Linked DNA regions of Homo sapiens. The protein of the gene in region 3 purifies or fractionates together with the protein of the main gene of each other region. This does not show direct contact. Each region holds a gene or a part of one and is shown on either strand. Other genes may lie near its edges.

The links.
Region 1: the proteins of KCNE1 (region 3) and FAM241A purify together in Homo sapiens (affinity purification with mass spectrometry; one large-scale study listed by BioGRID and IntAct). This does not show direct contact.
Region 2: the proteins of KCNE1 (region 3) and TM9SF3 purify together in Homo sapiens (affinity purification with mass spectrometry; one large-scale study listed by BioGRID and IntAct). This does not show direct contact.
Region 4: the proteins of KCNE1 (region 3) and SERPINE2 purify together in Homo sapiens (affinity purification with mass spectrometry; one large-scale study listed by BioGRID and IntAct). This does not show direct contact.
Region 5: the proteins of KCNE1 (region 3) and SLC25A24 purify together in Homo sapiens (affinity purification with mass spectrometry; one large-scale study listed by BioGRID and IntAct). This does not show direct contact.
Region 6: the proteins of KCNE1 (region 3) and KCNH2 purify together in Homo sapiens (affinity purification with western blotting, with the first as the bait; one study listed by BioGRID). This does not show direct contact.

What each region holds. Positions count from the first base shown.
Region 1 is NC_000004.12:112,186,533-112,191,403, reverse strand, and holds part of FAM241A (uncharacterized protein FAM241A), read right to left. Parts: intron 4,712-4,871; coding exon 4,466-4,711; 3' UTR 1-4,465.
Region 2 is NC_000010.11:96,583,605-96,589,133, forward strand, and holds the start of TM9SF3 (transmembrane 9 superfamily member 3 precursor), read right to left. Parts: upstream 3,409-5,529; 5' UTR 3,232-3,408; coding exon 3,130-3,231; intron 3,105-3,129; exon of another isoform or gene 2,707-3,104; coding exon of another isoform or gene 2,551-2,706; intron 1-2,550.
Region 3 is NC_000021.9:34,445,350-34,450,220, reverse strand, and holds the end of KCNE1 (potassium voltage-gated channel subfamily E member 1), read left to right. Parts: intron 1-536; 5' UTR 537-577; coding exon of another isoform or gene 578-586; coding exon 587-976; 3' UTR 977-3,531; downstream 3,532-4,871. UniProt on the Homo sapiens protein: Ancillary protein that functions as a regulatory subunit of the voltage-gated potassium (Kv) channel complex composed of pore-forming and potassium-conducting alpha subunits and of regulatory beta subunits.
Region 4 is NC_000002.12:223,974,114-223,978,355, reverse strand, and holds the end of SERPINE2 (glia-derived nexin isoform b precursor), read left to right. Parts: intron 1-728; coding exon 729-812; intron 813-2,451; coding exon 2,452-2,489; 3' UTR 2,490-3,311; downstream 3,312-4,242. UniProt on the Homo sapiens protein: Serine protease inhibitor with activity toward thrombin, trypsin, and urokinase. Promotes neurite extension by inhibiting thrombin. Binds heparin.
Region 5 is NC_000001.11:108,193,407-108,198,277, reverse strand, and holds part of SLC25A24 (mitochondrial adenyl nucleotide antiporter SLC25A24), read left to right. Parts: intron 1-4,871. UniProt on the Homo sapiens protein: Electroneutral antiporter that mediates the transport of adenyl nucleotides through the inner mitochondrial membrane. Originally identified as an ATP-magnesium/inorganic phosphate antiporter, it also acts as a broad specificity adenyl nucleotide antiporter.
Region 6 is NC_000007.14:150,943,090-150,947,321, forward strand, and holds the end of KCNH2 (voltage-gated inwardly rectifying potassium channel KCNH2), read right to left. Parts: intron 3,966-4,232; coding exon 3,788-3,965; intron 2,426-3,787; coding exon 2,276-2,425; 3' UTR 1,872-2,275; downstream 1-1,871.

The DNA.
Region 1 (4,871 bases), on a different chromosome or scaffold from region 3:
GATATCAGAATCATGTTAGAATAATTCTTTAGAAAGATCTGTAACTACAAAGTGGAAAATGAAGGTAGGGAGGCTAATCAGGATTCTCAGCATGCCAGGTGAGATGATGGCAGAATGGACTCAGTGATGCTAGGAATGAATAGAAGTAGAAAGATTATATTTTTAGAAGTAAAATAGATTTGGTACTTGGTTACATGTAGGTAGTGTAGGAAACACAGAGTCAAGGATGTCATCTACAACTCCTGCTTGAGCAGTTAGGGAAAGGATTGTGTCATTTGCTGAGATGGGAAACAGGAATTAAAGATTTGGGAGAAGGATGCTGCGCTCGTTTGGACACGCTGAGTCTTGGGTACTATGGGATAACCAAATGCAAATAAATATTGGGCAAGCAATTGAATGTAGGAGTCTTAAATTCTGTACAGTGCTCTGATCTAGAGATGCAAATTGGGGAGCTGTTAGGATGCAAATGGTAACTCTGCAGCCACGGGAGTGGTGACATTGCCGAGCTGCTGTGTGGAGTGATGTGAGAGCAGGCTGTTGGACTGAACTCCAACGCATACCAAAAATTAAATGTTGGGCAGAGAGACAAGAGTTGCAAATGACCTCTAATCCACCAATACTCCTGAAGTCATAGTTTGTAAATAAGTTTATATTCTTCTCGGCCAACTCTATTACCAGGCATGAAAGTCTTTTTTTTTTTTTTTTGAGATGGAGTTTCGCTCTTGTTGCCCAGATTGAGTGCAAGGGCATAATCTTGGCTCACTGCAAACTTTGGCTTCCGGGTTCAAGCGACTCTCCTGCCTCAGCCTCCTGAGTAGCTGAGATTACAGGCATGCACCACCACGCCTAGCTAATTTTGTATTTTTTTTTTTTTTTTTTTAGTAGAGACGGGGTTTCTCCATGTTGGTCAGGCTAGTCTCGAACTCCCGACCTCAGGTGATCCGCCCGCTTCGGCCTCCCAAAGTGCTGTCCCAGCACTTTTATAGGGATGAGCCACCGCGCCTGGCCGTCTTACATTTTTTTTTCTCCCTTCAATTGTAAAGCCATAAATTGGTAATGAAAGCATTTTAAACACCTGAAATTAATAAACATTTGTAAAATAACTATTAAAACAATCTATGAACCACACGAATAGCCTTTGATTGCTCCAAACCTGGCTTTGACTATTTTGAGCTTTCTATATTACAACAGACCTTTACTTATACTGTAATTTTTCCTCTATCATTCTGTAAGTTTTGCCTTTCCTGATTGCCTGGATAGTCTTTAGTGGATTTACAGCTTGGTGACAGCCTAGAGAGATTTTCTGTGGTCAAAACATGATTAAATAGAGATTTGTTGGTCAGAAGATAACCATGAACCATAATACCCACAAGGGAAAGAGCCAGATTCAGTTTTGGGTGGGTCGATGGGGATTTACCTCATATGCTTTCTTTTATTTCACAAAATGTGTTCTGTTCTTTACTTTCGTATCTGTAGGAATAGAAATGGGAATGTGGCCTCTAGGGTGTGCTGATGTATGTTTAACAGCTGGCTTTCAAGGAAAAAAAAAAAAAAAAGATCTGATTTGCAGTGTTTACTAATTTTTTTGGTGTAAATACTCTCACCATGGCCAATTTCAAACTACCAACTTGACAGCACTGAAGGCAGAAAAAATGTTCACAGTTGGCTCTTGTAAGCCAGTGCAAGCTTGCTCCAGCACACTACTGGACTAGGAATGATCTGCCTGTAGCCAGGAATGGGAAAATACCTTGCCCATGACAGCTTAAGGTATGAGAGGACAGAATTCTACAAAATACAGAGTTTTTACTTTAAGAAAAATGGATTTACTCATCTACAGTCTGTTTATTTGTAGACTTCGACCTTTTTCTTTTGAATTACTGGCCATATGAGTATGCATTATGTAATAACCTTAGCATTGTAACTTCTATTTCTTTATTCATAAGCAATAACAGTTTCTAAAACTGGCTTGTATTTGAGATTGAAATGATGAGAATCATTTTCAATCCAATTTTTTTTTTTTTTTTTTTTTTTTTGAGATGGGGTCTCACTCTGTTACCCAGAGTGCTGGAGTGCTCACTGCAAGCTCTGCCTCCCGGGTTCACGCCATTCTCCTGCCTCAGCCTCCTGAGTAGCTGGGACGACAGGCACCTGCCACCAGGCCCGGCTAATTTTTTGTACCTTTAGTAGGGATGGGGTTTCACCATGTTAGCCAGGAAGGTCTCGATCTCCTGACCTTGTGATCCACCCGCCTCAGCCTCCCAAAGTGCTAGGATTACAGGCGTGAGCCACCGCGCCCGGCCCAATCTAATTCTTTATACCATGAACCAAATAAATTACCAGTTTTATTTCAGGATATTAGTATAATCTGCATTCTAATATATTTCATAAAAGAAAATATTTTATTTCCATTACATAGGCAAAGTTTGTTTTTTCCCATATCAAAGCCAAATATTATTTGATGTACTGACCAATAATATATGTAGAAAGAATAACAGCAAAATATCTTATTTCTTTATATAATTTAATATATACCCTATTAACACCAGTGTGCAGATGTACAGTACTGACAGTATACTAAATAGTTAGTATTAAAAATTACTTTAAAAATGTTTTCAACATTAGGTACTGGTGGAACCAGAGCTGTTATTTTGTACATCATATCATTTATGTGTTGCAAAGGAAAAGTAAAATTTCCAGTAGCATTAGAAAAAAATGTACTGATATTTTATGTAGATATACAAAATCTCATGACATCTATTGAAAACCTCACAATTCTATTGTGCACTAATAAAAACACCTTTTCAAACAACTTGCACTTATACTGAGTTCATAAAGGCTACTATAAAAATATTGCAAAAGCAATAAAAACACAATATCGTACAAAGTCTTTTGTTTTTTAAAAGTCAAATTTTAAAAGGACTGTATTTATATAAATGTGCAATACTTTTTAGTGACCCTGACTAACATTTTTGTTTAGGATTATCTGATTTTAGAAAACTAAGTTAAATGTTTTTCCTTATTTTCTGTTTCAGAATGAGAAGACACTAAGAATGCACAGAGGTTTAGAAATAAGATTGGGTAAAAGCTTTATGAAGTGGGATAGCAAGCACTCTACATGTTTTACTTGTTGCCCTACCAAAGATACAAATGCCTGACTGCCCCAATTTCTGAAATTTAACTTGAATTCTAAATCTTAACTACCCCCCTTTCCTTTATAATCTTTGAGATGAAAGTGTAAAGATTTTAGGTTCTCTAACAAAACCCAAAATATCACTAAAGCCATTCTCCATTTTCAAAGAATATTTAAAGAAATGCGTATTTCAATATAAAACCTGAAAATGCTGAATTAAGACACCTTAATAACATGGCTAGCCAATTACTGATGTGACTTTAGCCTTAGAAAAAGATTATCAAAATTGGCTAAGTTCCAAATTTAAGCATTTGGTTTTATACTGTTAATATTGTACCTTTCTGATATAGATATCAAAGAAAAATGATCTGATTTTTTTCCTGAAAACAACAGTAAAATACAAATTTTTTGTGAAAAAATCCATGTCAAGATAGGAAATACATTGTTTCAAAACTCAGAATAAGTGTTATGAAAGAACTATAAAATTATAAATTTCTAAAAAAAAATACACTGAAAATGTCTCTCTAGGAAAAAATATGCAACTTGTTAGATACAAGAAAATATGGCATTACCATAGGGTGCAGTCAACTAGGCTATGAGACTTTAAAAACTCACAAAAAGTAATTAGCACCAAAATTGTCTGAAACTTCAAATGATATATTAAAGTAGGTCTAGGTCCAAATGTTACATTTTAAAAAAGTTATATTTAACCTGGGAGCTTTCCCCAGTAATAATAAATATATTATTTTTGACCTTTAGAAAACGTTCTATCTTTACTGATTTTCATCACAATATTAAGGTAGTGTATGCTAATTATCATTTACCTTAGTTTAGGCTGGGTAGGGACAATTGAAATCCAAATATTTCCCAAATAATATGAGATTATTTGGTGGGGAGTGTGAGTGGGGAGAAGTTTTCTAAGTGAAACTTACTTTTAGCTTGTTTCATACTTTTTCTTCTGAAATGTTTTATTGGAACTCTTTATAAGAACTATATTGCTTGATTTGAATTCCATGTCCTGTTATTTTCCCTGTTCACTTTCTGGTGGTGTTACTTAAGATTTGGCATGGGGATAGAGGTGTATAAAGGAGACAGAGATCACAGTAGTGAAACAAGAGTTTTGAATAAGCTAATGTATATTCAAAATATATATTCAACCCTGTTATGATCAAGAGTTTAGTTTTAAGTGACATCCATGTATAAATTTACTTACAAAACAGCCAGCACATGATTTGAAACAAGGCAAACTTTTTCGGTTGTCAAAAAGTGAAATATATAACTTCTTCAATTACATATATGGCTACCAAATGTCAAACAATTCAATTCGGCCATGTTTTACTGTTGCACATAAATAATAACAAGGCAAAGAACAGCAACTAGTCCAAGGGCTTGCAGGCCAAGGAACCACAGCATAACCCAAAAGAAAATGACTATTACTGGTTCCACTATTCGTTCTCCAAAATACATCCTTGTGAAGCCCATGTTGATAAGGTTTTTGTTCAGTTCACCAAAAAGTGTTCCCATTTTCTTGTAGTCATCTCCAACCGGCTCACCAGTGTGGTTCTGTGAGTCTTCAACATCCTTTAAAAAAAAAAAAAAAGACAAAACATGAACATAACATGAGAAATATGTAAACGTCTTTAAGAACCTTAGTTCTTCATCTTCCAAAGTGCTGGGCATACTTCTGATAATTATTCTACAAGTACCTGTTAACACAATGGGAATGTTCTTTTTGATCCTG
Region 2 (5,529 bases), on a different chromosome or scaffold from region 3:
TCTACCCCTACCAGATGTGTGTTATCTGCAGGTGACCTCACCTCTCTAGATTCACTTTCCTCATCTACAAAATGGGCATATTACTCACCTCGTAGGTTATTAATAGATGAGTTAATAAGTGTAAAATACTTAGAACAGTGCATAGCCAGCAGGGCATGGTGGCTCACACCTGTAATCCCAGCACTTTGGGAGGCCGAGGCAGGCAGATCACCTGAGGTCAGGAGTTCAAGACCAGCCTGGCCAACATGGTGAAACCTCGTCTCTACTAAAAATACACAAATTAGCCAGGCATGGTGGCAAGCACCTGTAATCACAGCTACTAGGGAGGCTGAGGCAGGAGAATTGCTTGAACCCAGGAGGCAGAGATTGCAGTGAGTGGACATTGTGCCACTGTACTCCAGCCTGGGTGACAAGAGCAAAACTATGCCTCAAAAAAACAAAACAAAACAAACAAAAAAAAACAGTGCATAGCCCATTTTACTACAAAAGACATACTAGGTATTATCTGGAAACAATCTTCACAGGCAATTAACCTAAAAGGCCAGCTTCAGCTTCTAAAAGTTATTGTTTGATAATTCAATTCTACATGTATTTACTAAACACCTACTCAGCAACTTCCCCACACCAATGTCTCCTCTTCCTTTAGTATTATTCTCTCTTTACTAGCTACTTCTGCTTCTTTGACAGAAAAAAATAAATAAAACTCACTTGACATTAGCCTTTTCGGTACTACTATCTGGCTAAGAGGAATAGGAATGCCTAGTTTTTGAGAAATATTTTCAAGAAATTTAGAAAAAGCAAAAGATTTTGGCTAACAGTGAAAAAATAATATAAATGACATTTGAATTTTATGCTTATTTTTAGATGCTATTCTTCCCATAACTGTTTTTGTTTTTGTTTTGCTTTTTACAATACATATTCGGCCAGGCGTGGTGGCTCATGCCTGTAATCCCAGCACTTTGTGGGGCCAAGGCAGGCAGATCACTTGAGGCCAGTCGTTTTGAGTTCAAGACCAGCCGGGCCAACATGGCGAAATCCCCTTTCTACTAAAAATACAAAAATTAGCTAAGTGTGGTGGCGCACACCTGTAATCCCAGCTACTTGGCTAAGGCACGAGAATCGCTTGAGCCCGCAAGGCTGAGGTTGCAGTGATGTGAGACAGCACCACTGCACTCCAGCCTGGGCAACAGAGTGGGACTCTGTCTCAAAAATAAATAAATAAATAATAGGTATTTAATAATGGGTAACCAAGTAAGAGCAGTTCAATATAGACATGAAGTAATATGGATTCTAAATTTTTTGTCTAGCAACCATCTCATATATACCATATTATCTTTCGTGGCAGTCAACAAAAACCTTTTATCAAATATCTTATATGCAATTACTAGAATAAAAAACTGAAATAGTCCTAGCAATAAAACTGCATTGAAATTACACTTTTAATTTGTAAATTATTCTAAAGCCTTTATATACACCCAATTTGTAAAATTTTAATGGTTTCCCTAATCACAGCAGTGTAAGTCACAAGATTACAAGATTAAAAAGTAGAATACAGTACACTTTTGAGCTTATATGCCTGTATCACGGAACTACACATTGAGAGTTCTGAGTTTCATATGGTAACTTTTCCTAAGTGTTTTTTTAATTGGAAATATATTAGTAATAATATCATTAAACAGAAGGATGGATGCCCACTGAAAATTTAAAAATACTCAAAGACCCAAATCTATACATGGTCCCTGTATACTATGTGAAACAATAGCAGTTCTTAAACTTTGAGACAGCTTATCTGATGAAAGAACACAAAAGGAAATCGTTTTAAGCTGTTTAACCTCCCAACAAAATTATCTTAGGTGAAACACCACAAGTACAGTACAAAAACATGTCACCAATTCGAGATTTGTGTCTCTAAAGAAATACATACCTACACAGGTAAGAAGTTTCTGGCTGTGACCGAAGGTAGAACAGTCAAAAGTTTAGAGCTTTTATTAGCTAAAATAAGATCCCAGCTAGCCAAGGATCCAGCGAAAAGTTTTGTTGATTACAAATAAAATCGGATCCATTAAATAGGTAAGGACGACTGCTTCATTTCCTCACTTACCAGAAATGACATAAGACTCCCTCAGATCGTTCTGATTTAGTACAAACACAGTCTCTCATAGAAACTCCTATCATTAATGGTAAAGGTATAAAAAACAATTACTCGTCAAGCAAACTCTCAATTTACCTGACCTTCCTGCCTTGCTCAAGTCTACCACTCTGAAAACCACAGTTACAGCCCTAAGTGAAAGCCATTTGAAGAGTCGTTCACATGCACGTTTTGATGTGAGAATACCAATTAAACAAACTGCCAATCACCTTTAGGCCAAATGCAAAAGGGACTGTTTCTGGCCCTGACCTGAAGACTGGGAAACGTCAAGACCCTTTACTGTCAGAAGCTGCCTTAGTTAGAGACTATCGGGATGGGGGTCTCACTTAGGGGCTGGAAGGTGAGGAGAAAGTTACAAGAAAGGCCTAGGAATTGAACGCGTGTAGGTTGGGTGCACTTACAAGTAAGTATAAACTGCTCTTCAATTCAAGTTTATTAATGCTGCCCCACCCCAGGGTTTTAATCCGGTCTGGGCAGAAGCGGGCGATAAAAGCCAAAGGAGACCATAAAGTGTAGGATATTTCCTGGTTAGTGGCTGCCGGGTAATCACGATGCATCCATCTTCCTCGGCGTCGCAGCCCTCAGTAGCCAGAAGGCAGTCTCCTTCCCTGGGGGGCAAAAGCCCCGAGCCCAGCCTGCCCGTTGCCCCGCTCCCGCGGTGGATGAACCTCAACCCTTCCCAGGCTCCTTCCTGGCCCCAGGGTCCCAGGAACCCCGAGACCCTGGGGTGCGGCGCCACTGAGGCCCAGACCGGGGGAAGGAGACCCTGTCACTCGGGAGCGGAGCCCTGTCCCGGGAGCGCACGGAAATGCCTCCTCCACGCTCCCAAGGTTCCTGCTCCGCCAGGCCCAACCGGAAGGAGTCCTCGGGCCGCAGTGGGGCACCACCGGGCCGCCGGGCACTCCAGGCTGCGTGGGGCCTGCCTCAGTGGGCAACTGGGGAGCTAGCCCGGGGCGGCCGCGCCGGCCGGGGCGCCTCACCGTGTGTTCGTGCTCGTCCGCCCGGGTCCGGGGCAGCAGCAGCAGCAGCAGCCACAGCGCGGCGGCCGCCGCCACGCCAAGAGCGCCAGGCAGCGGCCTCATCCTCCGCGCCCCTCCGGCCCGGAGCCGGCTCACCGACTCCTCCTCCCGCCGCCGCCTCCTCCGCCGCCGCCGCCTCCGCCGCGGCCGATTCGCATCCACGGGGCGCGGACAGACGCACGGGGCCCGGCCCAGCCGCTGCCTCCTCTGCCGCCGCCGTCGCCGTCACCGCCCGCTCCTGAGCCTCCCCCGCCCCCCGCGCCTCCTCAGCCTCTTCCTCTGACTCAGCCACGTCATCCGGCCACCCCGGCACGCGCCGGAAGTGCCTCGCGACGCGGGGCCGCCACCGCCGCCGGGCCGAGGGAGGGCCCGGCAACCGCCGCCTGCGCGCCGGCTGCCCCTCGGCTCCTGGGAGCCGCGGCGCTACGGGCCTGCCGAGCACTCGGGCGGGCGCCGAGCAGGCTGGGCCCCGGCGCAGTGGCCTAGCCTGGACCGCAAGGCCGAAGCCGCCTCCGGGCCGCGTCCCGGTGTTTCGGGTTGTGTAACCTTGGCCAAAATGCTTAAGCTTTTTTCCTGGCTGCCAAATGGGGCCGATCGTCTGACCTGCTGCCTCCGGAACTTGAGGGATCAGATCAAATAACCCTTTCCTGGCGCTCGTCTGCCGCTGTGAATGAATCACGGGCTCCTGTAATCACCGTTAGGAGAGATTGTTAAACTCGTACAGGGTTGGATGTTTTAAAGTTACTGAATATTTACTGGACCCCTACTGTTCAATCAAGACATGCTAAGTTAGCTTGCCATTCTTGTTCATTTATGTGTTTACTTAACTATTTCTGGGTCTCCTCTTCCCAGTCATAAATATCTCTTGGAGTGTAAGCTCCTCGGAGCAGAGATCCTGTTTCCGTATTTCCTGTACCTAGAACAGTGCCAGATCCGTAGTAGACACTGAAACAAAAAATCTTTAAAAAAAAAAAAATATACGAATGTGGCACCACCATTTACACAGGCCACTAAGCCAAAAATCTCGAACTTGTCAGATTGTCTCTTCTCAGCCATCAGCAGTCAACAAGTTCTAGCATTTGGTCTCTTAAAAGTGGTTCAAGAGTTTATTTTTCCTCTCCTTCCTCTGCCAGTACCAACCAGTCTTCCGTATCACTATGTATTGCAAGAGTCTCACAAGAAGATATCCATCACTGACTGATCTTCCTCCCGTTTAACATCCCCAACAGGTGCCAGGGTGATGTTTTTTTTATTCTAAAAAGAAACCAGATTATATCGCTCACTCCCTTGCTTAAAACAGTTCTTCAATGTTAGGTAAATAAATCATGGAGTCACCACGAGGGCGTTCATCTGCCAGGCACTATTCTGAACGATATTGGCTCATTAAATTCTCACAGAAACCCTATGCAGCAGGTACGGTGAAAATGTTCCTGTTACAGATGAGGTAACTGAAGCACAGAGAGCTTGAGTGGCTTGCTGAAACACCAGACCCACTCAGTCTGGCTCCATAATAGGTCTTTTTGCTGGTAATGATTTACCAACTATACAGCCACTTTAAAAAAAGGAAATAGGTAAGTACTGGCATGGAATGATAACCAAGAGGTTCTGTTAAATTTTCAAGTTGAAGAAAATAAGAGTTTAACTTCATTTTATATGGCAATATGTTAGTCTGCCCATAGAAAACAATCTGAAAGATTATAACAAACTACTATCAGTGGTTAACTTTCTACTTTGTACATGCCTATAAATGTTTGGTTATTTTTTACAGTGAGCATGTGCTAACTATGTAATCAGAAAAAAAGTTCCCTGCTAAAGGATAAAGTCCAAATTTTTGCCTATTTTATCCCTAATTTATTTCCCTAACTTTACCTTCCACCAATTTCTATGCTCTGCATTCACCCGTATATATTTTTACACCTCTGTGCCTTTGCTCTTTATACTCCCTTTATCTGGCATGCTCTGCTTCACCTTGTGCCTTAGATATTATCCTTTCAGACCTAGCTGATGATCACCTCCTCAGTGAAACCTTGCATGATCCCTTGAGAAATGGAGCATTCCTTCTTTGGGATTTCAATAGCATTTGGCGTGTTGTGTTGTAATTATCTATTCACATTTCCTCTTCTACACTGCATTCGGACCTTTTTGATTGCAGGGACTATGATTTGTTTGTCTTTATATCTGTCCCAGCTGCTGAGATAGTGCTTGTCACATCATAGGTATTCAACTCTTTGCTGAATGAATGAAGACATTAACAAGTGAAAAGTCAAATAGCATAGCAAGATTTGAAGAATGCTTTCTAGATAGTGTAAGAAACATCACAAAGCAGTACATGATTAATTGCTGAATGAATCATACACCAGT
Region 3 (4,871 bases):
AAGGATGGGGATATTTGTCTCCCCCTTGTTTATGGAGTCAGCAGCCACAGCAGTGTCCATCTCTGGGGGAGAAGGCAGAGAAAAGAAGTGGGTGTTCACCATGGGTTGTATACAAACATTGGAAGCAAGGGAATGCACACACCCAGCACCGCAAGTGAGCCACAAAAGCACAGTCATGAGGAAAAAGAAGGAGACTGAATGAGTTGGATGACCTGATACCATTTAGGTAAACCAAAATGCACACATGCAACCCCATACGCCACAATATGCAGCAATGCATATTAAAGAAGCTCATTCTGATGGTCACCTATAGGGGTGGAGATTGGAGTGGTGGATGGAAATAGAAGGGAATCAATGTATCCATTCATCTATCAAGAGAAGGCATTGCACAGACCCAAGATGGCACATGCCATGGCCTGTGGAGTGTCAGCTCACCCCTCTCACCTGAGATTTTAAAATTGTATACGTGTGTGTGCGTACGTGTGGGTTTTGGCCAATACGTACTTTTTGATTTGGGGTTGCATTTTTCCTTTAAGAGGTGTGCCTGGGAAGTTTGAGCTGCAGCAGTGGAACCTTAATGCCCAGGATGATCCTGTCTAACACCACAGCGGTGACGCCCTTTCTGACCAAGCTGTGGCAGGAGACAGTTCAGCAGGGTGGCAACATGTCGGGCCTGGCCCGCAGGTCCCCCCGCAGCAGTGACGGCAAGCTGGAGGCCCTCTACGTCCTCATGGTACTGGGATTCTTCGGCTTCTTCACCCTGGGCATCATGCTGAGCTACATCCGCTCCAAGAAGCTGGAGCACTCGAACGACCCATTCAACGTCTACATCGAGTCCGATGCCTGGCAAGAGAAGGACAAGGCCTATGTCCAGGCCCGGGTCCTGGAGAGCTACAGGTCGTGCTATGTCGTTGAAAACCATCTGGCCATAGAACAACCCAACACACACCTTCCTGAGACGAAGCCTTCCCCATGAACCCCACCACTGGCTAAAACTGGACACATCCTGCCTGGCAACCTGATTTTCTAATCACATTCCTCTCATACTCTTTATTGTGATGGATACCACTGGATTTCTTTTTGGCTGTTGTAAGGGGTGAGGGGTGGATTAATGACACTGTTTCACTGTTTCTCTAAAATCACGTTCTTTTGTGATAGACTGTCAGTGGTTCCCCCATATCTGTCCCTGCCTTGCTAAATTTAGCAGAATCCCTGAGGACATGGCCTCTGAGAATAGCAGCTGCATTTCCCAGACTCCCTTGCAGCTAGCAAGGTTGTGTGACTAAGCCCTGGCCAGTAGGCATGGAAGTGAAGACTGTAATGTCCAAGTAATCCTTGGAAAGAAAAGAACGTGCCCTTAACTAACTTTGTCCTGCTTCCCAGTGGCTGGATGTGGAGGAGGTGGAGAGCAGTTATGAGACTGGGAAAGAACGGGGCACTCAAAGAGCCACACACATCTGGGCCTGGGCGACGTGGATCCTCCTTACCACCCACCAGGCCAGATTTACAGGAGAGAGAAATCCACTCCACTCTTCCTTAAGCCACTGTTATTCTGATCTCTGTTAAGGTCGCAGAATCAATGCCCTTACTGATACACCTACCTTATAGGACTGAACCTAAAGGCATGACATTTCCATACTTGTCACAAGCACACACTGATTCTGCCCTTGTCACTTCTGTGCTCACTCTTGTGGCTCTATCCTCCTCCTGCCCTTCCGCCTTCCACTCCTCCCTTGCACCCATCCTGCACACATCTCCCTGAAAACACACAGGCACATACACTCATATACATAGACACACATACACACCTCAATCTAGAAAGAACTTGCTTTGTACAGGGCTGAGATGGAGGAGAAAAAAATGCCCCCTTCAGAATGCATACCAAGGGGAAGGTGCTCGGTCACTGTGGGAGCAGGGAAAGGTGCCCCCACTCCCCGAGAGCCAGGGGAAGGAGTGGCTCTGGGCAGAGAGGGACACATAGCACTGGGGTGGCAGGTCCTTTTGAGGTGATGGGCCGGTTTTGTGAGATGAATTGTATCCCCCAAAAAGACAGGTACCTTCAATGTGACCTAATTGGGAAATAGAGTCTTTGCAGATGATCTAGTTGAGATGAGGTCATTGGGGTGGGCCCTCACCCAATATGACTGGAGTCCTTATCGGAAGAGGGAAATTCAGACACAGATGCATAGGGAGGACACCATGCCGTGACAGAGGCAGAGGGTGCAGTGACACAGCCACAAACCAAGGAAGGCCGAGGATGGATGCGCATCCCCATCCCAAGAAGTCGGGAAGAAGCCAGGAAGGCTCCTCTCCCACAGGTTTCAGAGGAAGCACAGCCCTGCTTGAATTCAAACTTTTGGCCTCCAGAACTGTGAGTCAGTACCTGTTGTTGAAGCCACCCAGCTTAGGATACTCTGGCAGCCTACTGCCATACAGTATTGGGATACTATAGTGAGCCCATGCAGCACCTCTCACCCACCCAGAGATGGAGCTGCTCTGCCTTCCAGCGGGGCACCCGGAGGGCTGCCCCAGCAGATAGAGAGGGCCTCCGTTCTGCCACCTGCCTTGAAAGGGTCTCCAGCTGCCATATGTAGCATTGGAGTCCTCTGCAATGCGACATCCTGAAAGCTCAGCTGCCTGGGCATTCCTGAAGAGTATGGAATATTTAAATGAAACATATTTTTTTAAAACCTGCGCATAAGATAAAAGCAGCCCGTGTGCATCTTGGGCCATCCTCAAATGGACAGACTTGGTCTTGTGAGGTTCCAGTCCTTGTTTCACATAATAAACACTGGCATGGCTCAGCCCCTGAGTTACCACAGTCCTTGAGATGAGTGGTTCTTTGGGTTACAAAGTCCTCTGAAAGTCTAGTGAGAGCTGTGATCTTTGCCCCACCCGAATAATGCATATGGACACCACACCTTGCCTGCCGTGTCCAGGATTCATGACCAGTAGCAGCCCAGCTATGCCTGCCACGTCTCACGGCCCCTGTGTAAGCCAGACCCTTCTTAGGCAGTTGCATATTCCCAGACTGAGGCAGGGCAGGTTTGCAGAGAGAGACCCAGAGTGCACGTGACCCGCAGTGTGATCCCTGGCACGCACTGACTTTGATATTCCAGGCACACGGACTGGCTATTTATCACCACTTCTTTTTCCCCACTAAGATTCCTGTGCCTTTTAAGGCAGAGGGAGATCCCTATGGCGTTAGTCTTCCCAGGCCTTAAAGGGCCCTTGTCTTCACTCACAAACCTCTTATCTCTTCTTCTCCTTCCTCTACATTTTAAAGGGGGAGAGGGAAAAGTAACCGGGAGACAAATTGAGCCACATATTTTCAGACACTTGTTACCATATTTTAAAATCTGGCTTCACATACACAGAGTCTTTGCTATGCACCATGTACTGTTCTAAGCTTCTTAAAAATAGAATCTCAATTATTATTTTGCAGGCAATACTCTATGCATTCATTAGCTAGGACAACAATGCATTTGCAGTAGTGAGATTTCGCTAAAAAATTAAAGCCATTTACTATGATCTGTGATGTGTGTTCTTAATATCACTATGATACTTCTAGAAGATGGTTATCAGTTCTTACAATGCTTTGATGAGGCAGCCCCACGGACTTGGGAATAAGGAAAGTAAGATTGCATGTGGATAATTAAACTCTGCCATCAACACACAGCGTGTCAGAACAGAGAGATGTGGGTCCCTCTGATGTCTGCAGATAGAAAGCAAGTGAAGCCCTAGGTGGAGACAATGGCGAACAGTGGCACCTCCTGCCTTGTAAAGGGGAGGCTGCTGTCAACTCCTCGCATTTGCAGCCAGCAGCGAATATGGGCACAGTCTAGACGGAGCAGGGAATGTGGACACCATCTAGACAGAGCAGGGAGTATGGGCACCGTCTGGATGGAGCAGGGAATGTGGGCACTGTCTAGACAGAGCAGGGAATGTGAGCACCGTCCAGACAGAGCAGGGAATGTGGGCACCGTCCGGACGGAGCAGGGAATGTGGGCACTGTCTAGACAGAGGAGGGAATGTGGGCACCGTCCAGATGGAGCAGGGAATGTGGGCACCATCTGGACAGAGCAGGGAATGTGGGCACCGTCCGGACGGAGCAGGGAATGTGGGCACCGTCCGGACGGAGCAGGGAATGTGGGCACCGTCCGGATGGAGCAGGGAATGTGGGCACCGTCCGGACGGAGCAGGGAATGTGGGCACCATCTAGACAGAGCAGGGAATGTGGGCACTGTCTGGACGGAGCAGGGAATGTGGGCACCATCTAGACACAGCAGGGAATGTGGGCACTGTCTGGACGGAGCAGGAAATGTGGGCACCGTCCAGACACAGCAGGGAATGTGGGCACCTTCCGGACGGAGGAGGGAATGTGGGCACTGTCCGGACAGATCAGGGAATGTGGGCACCGTCCAGACAGAGCAGGGAATGTGGGCACCGTCTGGACAGAGCAGGGAATGTGGGCACCATCCAGATGGAGCAGGGAATGTAGGCACTGTCTGGACAGATCAGGGTATGTCGGCACCATCTAGACAGAGCAGGGAATGTGGGCACCATCTAGACAGAGCAGGGAATGCGGGCACCATCGGATGAACTTCTAGGTATTGTTGGAGAAGCTGTGAACTCTTCTAATGTTTGCACATTGGCAACTAATTTACTTTTTAAAACTTGAGTGGGTCAAACGAAATATAACCCTGAGCTGGATTCTTCCCAGAGACCACTGATTAACTGCCTGTGCTTTACAGAAAAAGAATAGCTCCCAGGCAGGCCCATGCCACACCTGACAGAAGCATAAACAGACTCAGGGCTAGGGTGTGGTGGCTCACGCCTGTAATCCCAACACTTTGGGAGGCCTAGGCGGG
Region 4 (4,242 bases), on a different chromosome or scaffold from region 3:
GATTTAGAGAAGCTAAACAGGACCAGGGGTCGGGCGCGGTGGCTCATGCCTGTAATGCCCGCACTTTGGGAGGCTGAGGCAGGTGGATCACTTGAGGTCAGGAGTTCAAAACCAGCGTGACCAACATAGTGAAACCCTGTCTCTAAAAATACAAAAATTAGCCAGGCGTGGTGGTGCATGCCTGTAATCCCAGCTACTCAGGAGGCTGAGGCAGGAGAATCGCTTGAACCCGGGAGGCAAAGGTTGCAGTGAGCCAAGATCGCGCCACTGCACTCCAGCCTGGGTGACAGAGTGAGACTCCATCCCCAAAAAAAAGGACTGGGGGCTTTATCAGCAAAGCAGATGGTGTGAATAAAAAATAGCTAATAACAATAAATATGCATTAGATGTGTTTAGTGGCAAACACTGTTCTAAGAGCTATAATATATCTTATGTCATTTAATTATGTCATTTAATTCTCATCAAAACTCTATGAGGAGTAAGTATGTTTATCAGAGATGGTGCTTGTGTAGAAGACATGAGAGAGTAATGTAAAGGGCCTGGCCCAAGGTAGGCTTAGTAAATGGTGACCATTGAGCCTGTTGTAACATGGCCAGCCTATGGAACAAGCATGAAGTGTGTCTTCAGACACCAGCCTCTGAGGGTCCATGAAGCTAGCTAACTTGCTGGCCTTATGCTTACATGGTCTCATGTAATGTGCACAACACATTTTCCTTTTCTTCCCGTAGCTGCAATTCTCATTGCAAGATCATCGCCTCCCTGGTTTATAGTAGACAGACCTTTTCTGTTTTTCATCCGACATAATCCTACAGGTAAGTGACTCTCCTCTTCCATCATGCCCTCTCTGTTAGAATTTCAAAAGGTATATTGCACTCTTCATTATATCCAACAGTGGTGCCCATAGTCCATTTCCCTAATGTCAATAGTTGCAGACACTTTGAATAATATAACCACCCATGTTAAAGAGATAGGAAAATAAAGGCTGTGTTTACAGATGTGATGGAATCTTTTACACACTGACAGGATTTTAGGTTTTGCGGATTGTTGTTTTTAACAGAGAGGCTCAGCATCCCTTTGGAACACTTTTGACATCTATTGACTTTTCCATATTTATATAAATGTGGTGGTTCAATTTTGCTAGAAGCTATATAACTTCAACTTTTGTGTATTAGTCTGTTCTCACCCTGCTATGAAGAAATACCCTAGAGTGGGTAATTTACAAGGAAAAAGAGGTTTAATTGACTCACAGTTTCACATGGCTAGGGAAGCCTCAGGAACCTCACAATTACGGTGGAAGGCATCACTTCACAGGGCAGCAGGGGAGAGAATGAGAGCCGAGTGAAGTGGGAAACCCCTTATAAAACCATCAGATCTCATGAGAACTCACTCACTATCACAAGAACAGTATGGGGGAAACTGCTCCTATGATTCAGTTTTCTCCACCTGGTCCTGCCCTTGATATATGGGGATTATTAACAATTCGAGGCAAGATTTGAGTGGAGACACAGAGCCAAACCATACCACTTTGTAAGCCCACTCTATTGTTATACCTTGGGAATTGTTAATACAGTAGATTTTTGCTCTGTGAGTCATGGTTCAAACTTGGCTCTGGCCTTAAGCCTCATCTTTAAAATGAGGACAACAGTAGTGCTGACTGCTTATTACAATTATGAAGTATAAGTTCATCTTTGTAGAGAGGTTGGCTTCTTGTTGGTACAAGAGTAGGCACTAATATATTTTAGCTTTTACTATTTTATTTAATCAGTAATATGAGATAGTTCCTTATTCTCTTATCTCATTGCATCTGTGATGTTCTAATTGGCATGCCCCAGAACTGAGCCAGCCAATGAGGAGCTTCTGGCCACATGTGGCTATTTAACATTAACTTTAAAAATTCAATTTCTGGTTGGGTGCGGTGGCTTATGCCTGTAATCCCAGCACTTTGGGAGGCCAAGGCGGGTGGATCACCTGAGGTCAGGAGTTCGAGACCAGCCTGGCCAACATGGCAAAACCCCATCTCTGTTAGAAATACAAAAAATTGGCTGGCAGTGGTGGTGGGTGCCTGTAATCCCAGCTACTTGGGAGGCTGAGGCAGGAGAATTGCTTGAACCCAGGAGGCGGAAATTGCAGTGAGCCGAGATGGCGCCATTGTACTCCAGCCTGGGTGACAGTGCAAGACTCTGTCTCAAGAAATAAAAAATAAAATTAAAATTCAACTTCTAAGTCACACTAGCCACATTTTAAGCACTCTCTGGCCACATGTGACTAGTGGCTACCATGCTAGACAACAAAGATATAGACCATCTCTACCACTGCAGAAAGTTATACTGGACACTACTGAGCAAGAGGTCAAACATGATTGTTTCCCTTCCCTTAAATAGAATACCTTCCATCTTATTTTAAGGATTATTAATTTACAGAGTCATGCATTGTTTTCTTTTAATTCTGTAGGTGCTGTGTTATTCATGGGGCAGATAAACAAACCCTGAAGAGTATACAAAAGAAACCATGCAAAGCAACGACTACTTTGCTACGAAGAAAGACTCCTTTCCTGCATCTTTCATAGTTCTGTTAAATATTTTTGTACATCGCTTCTTTTTCAAAACTAGTTCTTAGGAACAGACTCGATGCAAGTGTTTCTGTTCTGGGAGGTATTGGAGGGAAAAAACAAGCAGGATGGCTGGAACACTGTACTGAGGAATGAATAGAAAGGCTTCCAGATGTCTAAAAGATTCTTTAAACTACTGAACTGTTACCTAGGTTAACAACCCTGTTGAGTATTTGCTGTTTGTCCAGTTCAGGAATTTTTGTTTTGTTTTGTCTATATGTGCGGCTTTTCAGAAGAAATTTAATCAGTGTGACAGAAAAAAAAATGTTTTATGGTAGCTTTTACTTTTTATGAAAAAAAAATTATTTGCCTTTTAAATTCTTTTCCCCCATCCCCCTCCAAAGTCTTGATAGCAAGCGTTATTTTGGTGGTAGAAACGGTGAAATCTCTAGCCTCTTTGTGTTTTTGTTGTTGTTGTTGTTGTTGTTTTATATAATGCATGTATTCACTAAAATAAAATTTAAAAAACTCCTGTCTTGCTAGACAAGGTTGCTGTTGTGCAGTGTGCCTGTCACTACTGGTCTGTACTCCTTGGATTTGCATTTTTGTATTTTGTACAAAGTAAAAATAAACTGTTATGAGTAGTAAAAATAAAGCTATTTCTCTGCTATTTGAAAATACAATAGAAGAAACTGAGCCTTTTAGACATTCGTCAGCCTCTTCTAATAAACCTTTGTACTATGTAAACATCAGGAAATTCAAAGCTCGGAGACTTTTCCTATTCTTTTCCTCTAGACCTGACAATCAAACACTTCCCCGCTTCAACACATCTCATTTTCTAGATCACTTCAACAGAGTAACTATTACAGTAATCCTAGTTCTACTCTTAGCTACATTCACTCCAGCAATGGCTAAGAATTCTCAGCAAAGAAACGGATTTTGTAGCAAGTGCCGAATGAAGTTGCTGGGTACCATGTATTTTGGAACTCCTGGGGGAACAGGAACTGTTTCGTTTTTGGTGATGATAGGCAGGAGTGTTTTTGAAATGACAGGGTTTTTTTGTTTGTTTTTTGTTTTTTTTTTGTTTTTTTCAAGGTAACTTTCCAAGTTGAACTCAAACATCATAATTCTTTTTTTCCTTTTTCTTTTTACAGAGACATGCCTCGCCATCTTGCCTAGGCTAGTCTTGAACTCCTGACCTCAAGTGATCCACCTGCCTCAGCCCCACAAAGTGCTGGGATTACAGGCATGAGCCACTGGCATTCAGCTTACAAATATCATAATTCTGATTTTACCATTTGCCTGCTTTTTAAAAAACTAATTTCTTAAAGATTTATGCAGTCTAAGCTAAATCAGAATTTAAGTTTAAAACATTTATCAAAACTTAAAAACATTTTTTTATTTTTAGCCCTTGAGTTCTACTTGCCTTAAACTATACATTAAAACCTCACATTCGGCACTCCATCAGTTTGCCATTTGGAATTATTATTTGTCAAGTGGGCTGAGCCTTGCTGTTCCCAACTATGTATGTGTACTTTTTTTTTTTTTCTTTTTTGAGACAGAGTCTTGCTCTGTCACCCAGGCTGGAGTGCAGTGGCGTGATCTCGACTCACTGCAACCTCTGCTTCCTGGGTTCAAGCAATTCTTCTGCCTCAGCCTCCCCAGTAGCTGGGAGTACAGGCACGCACCACTGC
Region 5 (4,871 bases), on a different chromosome or scaffold from region 3:
TCCTATTCTGCAGGTGAAATTCCTTTTCATTTCCTGTCTTAGTCCATTTAGTGTTGCTATAGTGGAATATCTGAGACAGGGTAATTTATAAAGAAAAGACATTTATTTAGCTCACAGTTCCGCAGGCTGGGAAGTTTAAGAAGCGTGGTGCTGGCATCTGCTGGACTCCTGGGGAGGGCTTTCCTGCTGTGTCACAACATGGTGGAAAGTCAAAGTGGAAGTGGACATGTGTGAAGAAGCAAAATCCGAGGGGTGTCCTGGCTTTATAGCAACCCAGCCTCGAGGGAACTGATCCATTACTGAGGGAACTAATTCAGTCTCATGAGAGAGAGAACTCACTCACTACTGCAAGAATGACACCAAGCCATTCATGAGGGATCTGCCTCCGTAACCCTGACACCTCCTGCTAGGTCCCTCCTCCCAACACGGCCACATCAGGGATCAGACTTCAACATGAGTTTTTGTGGGGACAAACAAAACGTAGCACTTGCTTTGCCTTTTGGTTCTATTCACATCCTCCACAGGATTGCATTATGCCTACCCATTTGGTGAGGGCAGTCTTCTTTAATTGGTTTACTGATTCAAATGCTACCCTCCTCCAGAGACATCCTCACAGACACACCCAGAAATCATGTTTTACCAGTTATCTGGGCATCCCTTAGTCCAGACGAGTTGATACATAAAATTAACCATCACACATGGGATAGAATTAGGATTACACAGTCAACCTTTATGGGAGAAAATTTCAGAGGCATGTCAGGGGTTTATGTAATGTCAAGGAGTGAGGACATTGGCTACTTGAGCATAGAAATGAGAACTGTGGGGTGACTCTTCGGTGGAAAGTTTCAAGGTAGTAGTTTGTATCTAAGCCAAATACTCAGCTTGAAGCAAAATCTCTATAAATTTTCATCTGATTTGATCTCATCTCCGTGTTTCCAAGCATTTGTAATGAATTGAGCATTTAGAAGAGAACAAATTTCTGTTTAAGTTTCTTTAGATTTTAGATGGAAAGAATGTAGAAATAAGAGTAGAATGTAGAAATAGGTATAAGGAATATAATAGCTAACCATTACTAAGTGTTCCAGAATTATCCAGGGAAGAGAAAAGAATTCAAGGCAAGTCCTGAGACAAAATTAAGAACCAATTGGAAGTGAAAGCGCTACATTTTTTTTTCTGGTATGACCTTTCTTTTCTGTATGTTCCAAATCTCCTCACTATGAAATTAGTGAAAAATTAAAGTTAAAAATTAGAGAAAATTCACATTAAGTTCTCCTAGGACTCAGTAGTATAAGGGTATAGACTGAGAGTAGAATGTAGTGTGAGAACAAGGAGATACAGTATTTAACCATTACTAATTCTCTTATACTTGTCTAGTAATCCTATTTCCTTTTAAAAGTCTTCAGTTATTTTCTCTTTACGCACCTCCTTCTCCCTCTTGTCTTCCTCCTTCTACCCCCATCTTCTTTCTTCCTGTGGAGCCTTCATGAATGGGATTAGTGCTTGTATAAAAGTGACCTGGAAGACCTTCCTTGCCCCTTCCACCATGTGAGGACACAGTGAGAAAACAGTGGTCCATGGAACCGGAAAGTGGGTCCTCACTAGACAGTAAATCTCCTAGCACTTCGATCTAGGACTTCCAGTGTCTGGAACTGCAAGAAATCAATGCTTATTTTTTAAGTAAGCCAATAGTATTTTTGTCATAGCAGCCCAGTTGGACTAGGACAATTATCAAGAGCAAGAAGGGAAGCAGCAAGCTACAAGAGAGTTCCGTCCTTGGTGTAAATTGACCGTGTAATCCTTGTCAAGTTTGAGCCTTACTGGAGCTTTACTTTCTTATTCTTAAAATGCAGATATCTTGCCTGCATCCTGGACAGAGCTTTTAACAAGGTCATATGTTGCAGAATATGAAAGTTCATGTTAAAAAACCCTTTAAAATGTGGTATCCCATTTACTAGCTGGTGAACTTCTTGAGGAACCTCTGTGCCCATGGGTATGAAGTGTATGCTGAATGATCACCCAATGTTAGAGGAGTGGGTGGACTGGTAACCTGATTTAAGGGCCATTCTAACTCTTACATTCTATGATTTTTTTAATTCTGTCTTTAAGTTTTTACATTTACAATCACAGAAAAAATAGTCACATAGAAGAATAGTAGCTTAGCAAATGTTTATTGCATTGAGTGGAATCAGGATTTCACTCCATTAAGTAATTCCTCTGTTAACAAAGAGGGTTCATTTCATTTTTATTTCATTAATATTGCTTTTTTTTTTTTTTTCTGGAGACAGAATCTTGCTCTATCACCAAGGCTGGAGTGCAGTGGTGCGATCTCGGCTCACTGCAGCCTCTGCTTCCTGGATTCAAGCGATTCTTGTGCCTCAGCCTCCCAAGCAGCTGAGATTACAGGCACATGCCACCACACCTGGTTAACTTTTGTATTTTCTAGTAGAGATGGGATTTTGCCATTTTGGTCAGGCTGGTCTTGAATTCCTGGCCTCTAGTGATCTGCCTGCCTCTGCCTCTGAAAGTGCTAAGATTACAGGCATGAGCTACCATGGCCAGCCCATTTCCTTAATATTTTAATTGTCAGACATGTTATGGTTTCTGGCACAATATTAAGAAGACATGATATGAAATCACAGGGTGAATTTTAGGGCATCACAACAGAAAGATTATGGTATAAGAAAAACAATGGAATTCCAACTACATTTCTGTCAAATGTTCTAAAATATATAAAATCTGTATCTTTTGTGTTCTCTCCTGATTTATATTCTAAATTTGATGTTATCCTTCTCTGCAGAAATAAAGTGTCTGAAAGAATGAAAAAAATGGAAGAATTCTTTAGTAAGGTATAAAATACCCTTTCTATCTTTGTAGCATTCTAAGCCTTTTGTCACCTTTCCAAACTCCCAACATGCCATATTCCCTGACTAGGCCACAGCCATGTACATTGATCCCTTTATTTTCTTCTCTCTGCCTGAGATTTCTCTCATTCCCCCTTCTCTGCCTGGTATATGATTGCCCATTGTTTAAGGCCCCAACTCACCTTTATAATCTTCCTAGCCCACTTTCTTTATCGGTATTCCAGAAAAAACAAAAGAAGCTTCCACAAGACAACATTCTGTAATACACTGCTTAACTTCTTTTGACCCTGCTGAGTTCAAAAATCTTATCTTTTTAAGGATTGAATGGAGTCCACCAAGGTATCTATATTTGACAGGATTTATGAAAACAAAAGGATTTGTTGAGAAAGTTTGAAGCCTAACTCTGAAACGTGGATCATAGTGTTTACTACACATTAACTGTTTTAGTGGATGTAATAGTTATTATTATAGGCTGTGGAATCAGAACAGGGTTCAAATGTTTTCACCGCTTGCTAGACTGTGGCCTTGGGCATGTTATTTAATGCCTGGAGGCCTCAAATGTTAACTAGGAATGGTAAGACCTACCCAGTAACTTAGCATAAATAGTAAATTCATTCATTTAATGTTTTCAAACAGTGCCAGACATTGTTTAATGAACTGGGGATATAGTGGTGAACAACACTGACAGCGTTCTTCATTGTATTCTCAAAACCCTCCCTATAGTAAGTAGGTCTGTGTGTGTGTGTAGGTGCATGGGGAATAAAAAATAATAAGCAAATAATGAACAGGGTAATTTCAAAAAGCAGAAAGAGCTATTCAACAAAACTACCTGCCTTTTATTAGATGAAACTCTCAACTCTATGGTTTGTTCTCTCCTGTCAATTCTGTTAAATGCTGTCAGCCTGTTTTCCTTATCACCCTGGCCACGACTTCTGTCTTTTCTGCTTGGTCCTGTAGACTCTAACCCAAGGCTCATTCTCTGCCTGGCTATCTGCCTTCTGTGGCTCTTTGCCACTACCTACATTTTCTGTGTTGCACAGGGAAGGACCATTCCCTGTGGACCATAAAATTCTCTTTTTGAAAGAATTCATTCTTGATTGGGCCACAGCACATCTTGTGAAACAGCATTAGACATTTGCCACTGCTCAGCAGCTCTGGGGGAAAATGTTTACTGAGAAGCGTACAGTAGTTTTTTTGACTAACCATGGTGCAACCTCCTCCCAGAGGGAAACCTATGAGTATTTCAAGGACATGTGATGGTCTGTTTTTGTCCCCAGTATCTGACATGATGGGTAGTGTAGAGCAAGAGCTTACAGATAATGGCTAAATTAAATTTTCTTTTTGAATTTTAATATTCAACTTTTTAGGGTACCCAATCTCCATATTTAGGAAAATAAATTACATAAAAAGTGGAGAGTTTTTATTGTGAAACTGCACCTCCATATTCCCAGTGGTGCAGGATGAGGGAGCACAGGTGTTGGTCTGGGGAAGCCAGGGCCCTCTGTGGTTCTGGAGGGTGAGGATTAAGAGGAAGCCTTAGATAGTATTTATGAGTATCTGCTGACTTCTCTCTGGGACCCAAGATCACTGAACTTTTGCCTATTTTGAGATCATCTTTCCAATCCAGCCACTAACAGCTGAAGGATAGGCTTGCCCTGGAGCCATTGTAGTGGTTGGATGAAGATAAAAGATAAAAAACTGTGAGGGGAGGTGTCACAGAAGAAAGGGCCCATGTGGGCAGATTTTCATTCAATTCCTAGTCTTTATTACAGCAATTCTCCAGTGCTGCAACCTTAGAAAAGGATTCCTACAACACAATGTAGGTACCCATCAGCAGCAGATTGGATAAAGAAAATGTGGTACATACACACCATGGAATACTATGCAGCCATAAAAAAGGAGCAAAATCATGTCCTTTGCAGCAATATGAATGCAGCTGGAAGCCAATAACTTAAACGAATTATTGTAGAAACAGAAAAACAAATACTGTGTTCTCATTTACAGGGGGAG
Region 6 (4,232 bases), on a different chromosome or scaffold from region 3:
CGGAGTGGTGGGCATCAGGCAGACTCCCAAGATGAAGGCACTCTAAGGACAAGGGCAGACCATGACAAGGATGAAACAGCACCAGGGAGCGGGGAGTTGGCTCAGCTCACAGCCCAGCATGCGAAGAGCATTGAGTTTCGTGTGTACCTTCACTGCTCCCCATAAGCCACTGCCTGGGTCTGTCTCCTGCCCTGGGCTCCAGAGTCCATAAGCAGAGCCATGCCCCACTGACACCAAATCTAGGCCACCCCAGCTAGGCCCCCACCTGCAGTGACAGTCACATCAACCAACCAGGAAGGCCTGTGTTAAACTTTTAAACCATGAGCAGAAGCAAGCTCACACTCACATGTGCATGTGTGTACATGTGTGGGACAGATCCTGATGCACAAACCTGTCTTTTCTGCCTGGCATCCCTCTCTGTCACCCCTCTCCCCCTCTGACCTGTGGATCTCTTCCTTCTCCCTGTCTCTCCCAGGCCCTGGAAAGGGGGAGATCCCTTCCTTCTCTCCTCCCTGCTCTGGGCACAGGGAACCTTCCAGGCTGCTCAGAGACCAACACCCGCCCCACCCAGGCATGGGCAGTGAGAACGGCACAGTTGTCTTTAAAACAGTCAACAGCCAGGCGCGGTGGCTCACACCTGTAATCCCAGTACTTTGGGAGGCTGAGGCGGGCGGATCATGAGGTCAGGAGATCAAGACCATCCTGGCTAACACAGTGAAACCCTGTCTCTACTAAAAATACAAAAAATTAGCTGAGCGTGGCGGTGGGTGCCTGTAGTCCCAGCTACTCGGGAGGCTGAGGCAGGAGAATGGCCTGAACCCAGGAGGCGGAGCTTGCAAGGAGTTGAGATTGTGCCACTGCACTCTAGCCTGGGTGACAGAGCGGGACTCCATCTCAAAAAAAAATTAATAAAATAAAACAGTCAACAAACCCACCTCCGAGGGTCAGAGGTTTCAAAGACTCAGTGAGAAGCTGCTCTGTCTCTGGAGGCCTTTGGCAGCTCCCTGCCTGCAAACCCACCCAGCTGGGCACAGCCTGCCCGCCACCCATTGGCTCTCCACACCAGCCTCAGTCATTGCACCACATTCCTCTGGGGGCTGCATGTCCTTACAAGCCCAGCAGCACATGCACACACATGTACACACACACAGGCACACGCAGGCACTTGCACACACACCCTTCACTGTCCCCAAGACATCTGCCTTGCCTTGCTCCCCGGTCATGGGAATGAGTCACCCTGAAGGTTGCACCCTCTTCAGGAAGCTCCTCTTGAGATCCAGGATCACAGGGGACCAAGGTGATACAAGTGAGGTCCATCTGCAGCCAGACACCAGGTGAGCTCTGGTCAGGGCTGGAGTCACCAGTGTGTCCGGGGCCCAATTGTATTGGATAAGATAAGGCTAAGTTGTGGGTGGCAGGGGGAGCCAGGACTCAGACCAATTTCAGGTTAGGGTCAACGCAGGCTCAGGAACTGGGTGAGGGAGACAAGTGCAGGGCTGCTTCCACAGTCAGTGTGAAGCCAAGCTGTGGGAGCCAGGGTGCCCCACCCAGCAGAGGCACATGGCCCTCAGGGGCTAGACACCAGGTCAGTGTCCCATCAGGACTGCCTCTAAATGCATGTGGTTCAGGGGGTTTTTTGTTATCTTGAATCCAGGGCCCTACAGAGACAAGATTCTGTCTCCCTGGAGATGACCTGTGTCAGCCCCCAGGGAGCACCCCCACTGCACACACCCAGACCTGGATACAGGGGCAGCCCTGTGGGCCTGGGCATGCAGACAGACCCGGATTCCTGTGCAGGCACACCTATGCATGTCCAGACAGGAACACAGGACACAGCAAGTAACAGTTACACCCTCCCAGCACCACTGGAGTCTCCTCAGGATAATTATTTATTATTCATAGTCATCAGCATCTTCATTAATTATTCATATGATCCTTAATTATTATCCTTAACAATAAGAGCAGTAAATAGCAGAAAAGTCCTTGAGGTGCCTAAGGCCCAGGGCCGGGTGCCTCCGGGCAGTTAGACCAGCTAATGCCCTCAGGGCAGTGGGGGGACCACAGGCCCCACCTACTGCCGGCCCTGCCCCTGCCCCTCTCACTGGGGCCCAGGGGACTGCAGGAGAAGATGGTCCCAAGGGCTGGGGGAGGAGCTGTGCTTTCGAGTTCCTCTCCCCTTCCACGGTCAGGGCCTCCTGAGCAGGGCCTCCAAGGGGAGCGGCCCAGCAGCGCCTTGATCCCTGGGTGAGCCACGTGTCCACACTGGGCAGCCCCACTAACTGCCCGGGTCCGAGCCGTGTCTGTGCAGGGGCTGGGAGGTGAGGGCCCCCAGCTGGCCCGGTAGGGAGAGGCGTCGTGTGGGGCCTTCTTGGGGAAGCTCTGGGGCCCCCGGGGGCAGCTCCTCACACGCCATGAACTGGGAAACCTGCAATACACACAGAGCATGGGCAGGCGAAGAGGCCATGGAGGAGGAGGAAGGGGAGGGAAAGGGGCAGGAGAACCCGGGGACAGAGGATGGACGGGAGGACAGGAGGGCCAAGAGGAGAGTCAGGTGGGCAGAGAAGCTGGAGGGGACAAGAGCCAAGGCAGCGAGAGCAGGACAGGGGCCACCAAGGGGAGGCACCAAGGTGGGAAGTAGAGAAAGGCATTCTCTGAGAGCAGGAGCCAAACAAGAGAGCTGGGAGCAGGGAAAACCCTAGGCCCCTGTCTCTTCCCGAGGGAATGTGGCCGCTGAGCCCAACCCAACCTGGAACAAGCAGTCTCTGTGTTGGGACAGAAGCTGGGACAGAAAAAGAGACAAGATTCCTTCCCGCAATCCAGAAAGAACTCGGGGACCTAGAAACAGAGGCAGGCTGGCGGCCAGGCATCTGAAGGCCAGGGAGAGGGCCGGGGCAGGCGGGAGGGGTTTGTGGGTACTGAGCGTCTGCTGGTGAGAGCTCTGCGGGGGCGGCTGCGAAGGGAGACTGGCACATTTGCTGACGTGGGCCCTCGTGTCTGCAAACAGGAGCAGGCAGCATATGGGAGGGGGGAGCGGATGCCAAGGGAAGTGGGGAGGGAGCAGATCCCAGGCCGCCTCTGGCAGCCAGAGGAGTCCCCACCATGGACGCGGAGGTTGACACAGACACCGCCATCCTGCAGAGGCCAGGAACATGCAGGTCCACCCAGGAGAGGACAAGGGGCAACTAAGGCCCATCTCTAGCAGAGGGGGCAAAGCAGGCCCAGGAAGTCCTCCCCTGGAGGCTTGGCCTCTGCACCCTGGGAAATGCCAAGCACCCTCAAGATGACCCTGTGACAGCCACTGCCAAGGGCAAGGATGGGCAGGACGGTGAGACCAGGGAGTGTCACTCACAGAAGGGACCCGGGACCCTGTCCCTAGATACTCTGGTATGCAGCCTCCACCGCCACGTCTCGGGCTCAGTCAGTTCTTGGAGACCACCCGTGGCCGTGAGACAGGCACCACCGTTGGAGCTGGCTCTTCAGGCGATGCTCCGGGGCCTGGCGGTGGAGGCTGTGGACACTAGGGGAGTGAAGCTGCGGGCCACTTAGCCTACAGGTTCCCTGCACCCAGCTGTCTAGGGGCTTTGGACGGGGGACTCTCCTGCCCTACCCTGAGCCTGCAGCTCCTGAAGCAGCCTTCCTCCAGGAGGACAGGGGTGGGAGGAGGGCAGGAACAAGGTTCAGGGAGGCTGGGCCACAGAGCCCAGCAGAAAGGCAGCAAAGCAGGTTTGGGCTGGAATCGGGGAACAAGCGGGTCACGGTACATCGAGGAAGCAGGGCTGGAGCTTACCTGAGAAAGCGAGTCCAAGGTGAGGGTGGGGAGGGGGCTGACGGGCAACAGCGGGGATGTGGAAGTGGGGCCAGGCCCCGGGGTGGTCACAGCACTGTAGGCGGGCGGGACCAGCGTCATCTGCCTCTGTAGCAGCTGCAGGACAGTGGCCATGTCTGCACTCAGCCGGGTCTCCAGCCTGGGGCAGGAAGTGGGGGATGCTCAGAGAAGTGGGGACACCAGTGACAGCCTCCACCGGGAGTGGGGAAGGGGAAGGGGAGGGGGGAGGGGCAGCCTGTCAACCCAGGCCCTCCGCGCTAGAGGTGTGGCAGCCCCCAGCTGGGCTAGGAATGGAAGAAGGGGATCCAGCTGCTGCACACACAGACAGGCCCTCTCCCTCTACCAGACAACACCGCCAGGACCTGGACCAGACTCCAGGGCGTGCCCCCCCACCCCACCTGCACTC